Linked DNA regions of Homo sapiens. The protein of the gene in region 1 interacts with the protein of each later gene in a pairwise test. Each region holds a gene or a part of one and is shown in the gene's direction. Other genes may lie near its edges.

Evidence for each region.
Region 2: the proteins of PEDS1-UBE2V1 (region 1) and CNR2 interact in a two-hybrid assay, tested with the Homo sapiens proteins (one large-scale study listed by BioGRID).

Annotation. Positions count from the first base shown.
Region 1 is NC_000020.11:50,125,999-50,129,816, reverse strand, and holds part of PEDS1-UBE2V1 (TMEM189-UBE2V1 fusion protein), read left to right. Parts: intron 1-126; coding exon 127-271; intron 272-1,629; coding exon 1,630-1,842; intron 1,843-3,818. Other genes in the region: PEDS1 (plasmanylethanolamine desaturase 1), read left to right, coding at 127-271, 1,630-1,842.
Region 2 is NC_000001.11:23,872,562-23,875,553, reverse strand, and holds part of CNR2 (cannabinoid receptor 2), read left to right. Parts: coding exon 1-1,019; 3' UTR 1,020-2,992. UniProt on the Homo sapiens protein: Heterotrimeric G protein-coupled receptor for endocannabinoid 2-arachidonoylglycerol mediating inhibition of adenylate cyclase. May function in inflammatory response, nociceptive transmission and bone homeostasis.

The DNA of each region.
Region 1 (3,818 bases):
TCCCGGGTGGAGGAAACTTAGGATCAAAGGCGGGAGGTGAGCCCAGGGTGAATGTGTTTAGGGGGCTGTGGAGAGCAGCTGACCACCTTAGGCTGACTGCTGGGGCTGTGTCCCCCTCAACTCCAGGCTTTCATCCGACCCTTCCGGGAGCACCACATTGACCCGACAGCTATCACACGGCACGACTTCATCGAGACCAACGGGGACAACTGCCTGGTGACACTGCTGCCGCTGCTAAACATGGCCTACAAGTTCCGCACCCACAGCCCTGGTGAGACACCCAGCTAGTGGTGGGCTGGGAGGGGGCCTTGGGGGCAGAGGCCGACCCCCAGGAGCCTTCTGGGGCTTATGTGTTTGGCTCCTTATGGTATTTTAAAAGAGTTTTCATTCATTGTCTTCATGTAAAATCAGGAAACCTGACATGAAGATGGAGGTTTCCAGCTTCTCTTGCACAATCTGCTCTGGCCCCCCTGGGTCCATGTTCCCACCTGGCCTCACTGGGTGGGAGCTGAGCTGCAGCCACTGCCTTTGACAGGACGCGTCTTTCCAGTTTACCACCGTCCCCACTATTCCTTGCTTCCCTGCACCCAACCCACCTTGTTCATTTGTGTTACCTGCCTGGCAGGGCTTCTGGGGTTTTGCTACCGTGGCCTAGTGGAAAATGTCTAGGCTGTGAAAACAGGGCCTGCCTATTTTTAGAGGGACTGGTCCCAAAGTAAGTGATTTCACCACTCTGAGCCTCAGTTGCCTTATCTGTCAGGTGGAGGTAGGTTGGGGCCCGGTCCTGTTCCAGCACCTTAACACCCATTTGTTCTTCAGGCAGCCTCCGGTGGGTAGAGGTGGTGAGGACGTGTAGTGTAGTGGGTGCTATGGCACCCTGCCCATCCCCTTCCCTGGGGGTGCACCCAGCCCCTGCTTCTGTGAGTGGTGGCTGCTGACAGCTCCCAGCTTCTCCAGGGATGGAGGGGAGGTCCCACCTGTCTCCTTGGGATAAGGCTGGAGCCAGTGACTGAAACGCCTCCGACGCTAGTCCCTTTGCCTCTGAGTGGGTCTAATTCTAAAGAGCCGTTAACACCTCAGAGCTCCTTGCAGGAACAGACTGAGACAGGACGCCACCCACCCCATCTTTGCTCTGCTCTTCCCCTGCCGTGTCTTGCTTCCCTCCCTCCCTTCGAGGTTTTTTCCTGAAGAGGCTCCCTTGATAAATCACATGCACAAGAACCTGTTTCAGGCTCCGCTTCTAGGGAACCTGGGTGAAGGCATCATTCCCATTTTCCTGATGGGGAAATTAAGCTTCTTAGAGGCAGAGTCACCGATCCAGCCCATACTGCCAAGAAATGTCGGCAGAGATCGGAACCCAGCTCCAGCTGACTCCGGTCTACATTCCCAGCCATTGCCATGCTTATGCCATTATCCTATTACACCATTACGCCTGCTTCCTGAGCAGGAGGAAAGCCTGAAGCCCAGGGCAGCACCTGAGCTTGCCTGCGGCCCTGCAGGGGGTGGAAGAGAATCCTGGGTGCTTGCCCAGCTCAGGAGCCGCCCAGGAGCAGGTGGTGAGGGCCATTTGGGGTGGGTTCCCCGTCCCGAGTGACAGCTGTGCCGGCCCCCCCTCTCCCCAACCTGCAGAAGCCCTGGAGCAGCTATACCCCTGGGAGTGCTTCGTCTTCTGCCTGATCATCTTCGGCACCTTCACCAACCAGATCCACAAGTGGTCGCACACGTACTTTGGGCTGCCACGCTGGGTCACCCTCCTGCAGGACTGGCATGTCATCCTGCCACGTAAACACCATCGCATCCACCACGTCTCACCCCACGAGACCTACTTCTGCATCACCACAGGTGCGGCCACCAGTGGCGTGGAATGGGCTTTCCCCACCCCAGCCACTGCACCATCTTCGAGGTCAGGAGGGCAGAGATCACAGCAGGAGGTCACACAGTCCTTGCCCTCTGGGAACAGTCTCTCAGGTCATGCATTTATTGAGCACCTACTGTGTGCCAGGCACTATTCTAGGTGCTGAGGACACAGTAAATGAGACTGACAAAGCCCTCTCCCTCGACTTCATGGCGTTGTGATTCCAGCCACCCATCATCCCGTATTTATTGAGCACCTACCACATGCCATGGTGCTTTGGGCGTAGGCTCCTGCAGCAAACAAAATAGCATGAATCAGCTGGGCGCAGTGGCTCATGCCTGGAATCCCAGCACTTTGGGAGGCCAAGGCGGGTGGATCACTTGAGGTCAGGAGTTGGAGACCAGCCTGGCCAACATGGTGAAACCCCATCTCTACTAAAAATACGAAAAAAAATTAATTGGGCTTGGTGGCAGGCACCTGTAATCCCAGCTACTCGGGAGGCTGAGGCAAGAGAATTGCTTGAACCTGGGAGGTGGAGGTTGCAGTAAGCTGAAATCGCACCACTGCACTCCAGCCTAGGTGACAGAGACTGTCTCAAAAAAAAAAAAAAAAAAAAAAAAACCAGAAAACACGGATCCTTGCCCTTGTGGCACTCACCATCTAGTGAGGGAGCTGGAACGAATGAATAAAATGTGTAGCGTGGCTAATGGTGCTAACTGCTATGGAGGAAAATAAAGCAGGGGTGGGAGAAGGAAGTGGGGGCTTTGCCTCTTAAATCGGGTGGTCAGGGAAGGTGACACTTGAACAAAGACCCCGAGGAGCTGAGGGACAAAGCCGTGCAGACCTCTGTGGGAGGCACTCTAGGCAGCAGGAACAGTAGGTGCGAAGGCCCTGAGGCTGGCCTTTGCTTGCTTGGTGTGTTTCCGGAATGGCAAAGAGGCTCCTGACTGGAGTTGAGGCAGAGCAATGGAAGAGGGAGAAGCGGGCAGAGCAGTGGAAGAGGGAGGAGAGAAGGGGGCAGAGCAACTGAAGAGGGAGGAGAGAAGTGTGGGAGGGCCCTGAAGATAGATGAGCACAGATTAGAGCAAAGGTAACAGGAAGCAGCAGGCCAGAGGCAGGAACATGCCCAGTGCAGTGGAGGAAGGGAAAGGAGGCCCACGTGCCATGCTCAGTTAGCAGCCAGTGCGAAAGAGGTGAGGTGAACTGGGAGTTTCTCTGGAGCCAGCTGGGCTGCTTTCAAGGTTAAGTGTATCAGGTGCTGTCAAGTCTAACTCAGGCCTAACTCTCAGCTTCTCCACATGTGCCTTTAGGCAACTCACAAACCTCCCTGGGGACCGCTTTTCTCCTTACAAAATAGGGCTGCAGCCGCCTCCTTCATATATCACCTTCTTAGGGCCATAGTGGGAATGGCAAATGCGGTGTTTGGCATATAGTAGGTACTTGATAAATTACAGCTACTATTTTTTTTTAGGTCTTTCTGGAAACAGAACTGAGAACCACAAAAAAACATTCTTTTTCATGTCCTCAATTTGTGCTCCTTGGAAGGCAGGTGGAGGGATTAGAATTCAGGCTATTTAGGAGATGGGTTAACTACTTAGGCAGGGCTGAGTTCCAATCCTGGTTTGGCCACCTGCTAATTGGGAAACTCTTCTCTAAGCCTCAGTGTGCTCATGTGGAAAATGGGACTGATATTAGTATCTACCTCATGGTGAGCTGGAAGGCTGTAAGATTGTGAGCAATATTTATTCAGCACCTACTCTGCGCCTGGCTGTATTCTAAGCACTGAGGATCAGCAGTGAAAGAACATGGTGTTTTGCATTTTGGGGATAACGTTCCAGTTGGGGATTGGGGGGTGAACAAACACAGAACAGGAAAATAGAGAATTAACGAAGATGGTTACAGGTTATCATAAAGGCTATAAAGAAATGAAAGAGGGTGGCCTGTCATGGTGGTTCACGCGTGT
Region 2 (2,992 bases), on another chromosome or scaffold:
TGAAGGATTACATGATCCTGAGTGGTCCCCAGAAGACAGCTGTTGCTGTGTTGTGCACTCTTCTGGGCCTGCTAAGTGCCCTGGAGAACGTGGCTGTGCTCTATCTGATCCTGTCCTCCCACCAACTCCGCCGGAAGCCCTCATACCTGTTCATTGGCAGCTTGGCTGGGGCTGACTTCCTGGCCAGTGTGGTCTTTGCATGCAGCTTTGTGAATTTCCATGTTTTCCATGGTGTGGATTCCAAGGCTGTCTTCCTGCTGAAGATTGGCAGCGTGACTATGACCTTCACAGCCTCTGTGGGTAGCCTCCTGCTGACCGCCATTGACCGATACCTCTGCCTGCGCTATCCACCTTCCTACAAAGCTCTGCTCACCCGTGGAAGGGCACTGGTGACCCTGGGCATCATGTGGGTCCTCTCAGCACTAGTCTCCTACCTGCCCCTCATGGGATGGACTTGCTGTCCCAGGCCCTGCTCTGAGCTTTTCCCACTGATCCCCAATGACTACCTGCTGAGCTGGCTCCTGTTCATCGCCTTCCTCTTTTCCGGAATCATCTACACCTATGGGCATGTTCTCTGGAAGGCCCATCAGCATGTGGCCAGCTTGTCTGGCCACCAGGACAGGCAGGTGCCAGGAATGGCCCGAATGAGGCTGGATGTGAGGTTGGCCAAGACCCTAGGGCTAGTGTTGGCTGTGCTCCTCATCTGTTGGTTCCCAGTGCTGGCCCTCATGGCCCACAGCCTGGCCACTACGCTCAGTGACCAGGTCAAGAAGGCCTTTGCTTTCTGCTCCATGCTGTGCCTCATCAACTCCATGGTCAACCCTGTCATCTATGCTCTACGGAGTGGAGAGATCCGCTCCTCTGCCCATCACTGCCTGGCTCACTGGAAGAAGTGTGTGAGGGGCCTTGGGTCAGAGGCAAAAGAAGAAGCCCCGAGATCCTCAGTCACCGAGACAGAGGCTGATGGGAAAATCACTCCGTGGCCAGATTCCAGAGATCTAGACCTCTCTGATTGCTGATGAGGCCTCTTCCCAATTTAAACAACTCAAGTCAGAAATCAGTTCACTCCCTGGAAGAGAGAGAGGGGTCTTGGCACTCTCTTCTTACTTAAACCAGTCCCAGACACCTAGACACGGACCCCTTTTTGCTGATGAGTGTTGGGACTGACTCCTGGAAGACAGCCTGGCCTTGCCCACCTGCACACAGTCTGTTGGATAGGTAGGGCCACGAGGAGTAGCCAGGTAGGCGAGACACAAAAGGCCTGGGACAGGGTCAGTACAAGTCAGGTCAGGCTTCATGCCTGCATCCTCCAGAGACCACAGGAGCCAAAGCGAGCCTCCAGGCCCAGCAATGAGGGACTTGGGAGAAATCTGAGAAGAATGGGTTGTTCTCTTGGGAAGTCAGGGTATCAGATGGGATGGACATCCAGGTCTTCTCTCTGCCTAATTGTCAAGGCCTCCTTGGCTCTGGAGCTATGAAAGGCCCCACTTTCAAGTCACCCTTGCCACTGAGGACCGAGGACTATGCTATGATGAGGATTAAGGTGTTGACTTGCCTCTTTCAGAGATAAATGACAAGCCTTCAGTTTGGGGCATCCTGTTGTTTGGGCGAGGACCCTCTCTGATATTCTGATAATCCCCACCTGTAACCTCAGGTCCCTGGAAATACAGAGGAGGCTGGGATCGCCTGAGACACAAAAATCTTTGGAGAATTTTCTTGACCCTCTGAAGTCCTTCCAGCAGCAGTCCTGGTGGTGCTGCTGGAAGCAGGCAATGTCCTAGTCTAACCTAACTCGAAGAAAAAAAGGAAGATATTCACAAAGATTGTATAAATCTCCAAACTGTTCCCCTATCTGCCCCCAATTCAGCTCCCTTGCCTCCTCCACACCCCTATTACATATAATAAGCAGAGCAAGTGGGAGGAGGGGAAATGTCCTTCCTATATGCCAGGTATGGGGCTGACATTTCAGTCTATTGACCCCAGCTAGAATATAGCTCCATGATTTTAAAGATCTCAGGGGCCAGGCATGGTAGCTCATGCCTGTAATCCCAGCACTTTGGGAGGCCAAGGCAGGTGGATCACCTGAGGTCAGGAGTTTGAGACCAGCCTGACCAATATGGTGAAACCCTGTCTCTACTAAAAATACAAAAATTAGCAGGGCATGGTGGCAGGCACCTGTAGTCCCAGCTACTCGGGAGGCTGAGACAGGAGAATTGCTTGAACCCTGGAGGCAGAGGTTGCAGTGAGCCGAGATTGCACCACTGCACTCCAGCCTGGGTGACAGAGCAAGACTGTCTCAAAAAAATAAAATAAAATAGATCCCAGGGTACTCATTTTTCATATGAGGGAGGCTGGGTTCCTCCCAGAGGAGCCTAAAACAGCCAACAAGAGAAATTGTTGGCGGCAGGAAGATTGCAGAGGAATTCTAATGCAATTATTTGGGACCTCAAATGGAATAAAATGAAAGATATTGGTTAAACATGTCTTCGTTTAATACTTTCAAGACAAAATATCCACTAGCTATTCACTTATTCATTCATCTCATAAACATGAGCCAGGCTCTGTGCAGGGTCCTGAGTACCCAGCCATAAATGAGACTGTGCCCCTGTCTCATGGGGCTTACAGTCTATATCCTGCTTGCAAGACAGCCAATAAGTCAATAAAGAAGATAATTACAGGCAGTACAACAAAGGAAATATGCAGGTTCATGTCATGTAATAGGGATTAATTGAGTTAACTCAATAAACGGTAGGATAGACCTACCATGTGCCGGCTCACTTTTATTGAGCCTTTACTATGTGCCAGGCAGGGGGCTAAGTGTTTTTAAATGCCTTATTTCACTTCATGTTTCCCAACAACCTAATAAGAAGGTCTTAGTTATCTTCATTTTACAGATGTGGCAACCTCAAAGATGCAAAGTCACTTGTCTAAGGTCACCCTGCTAAGTACCAGAGCTGAGGTCTCCAACCTAGTTCTGTTTGACTTCAAAGCC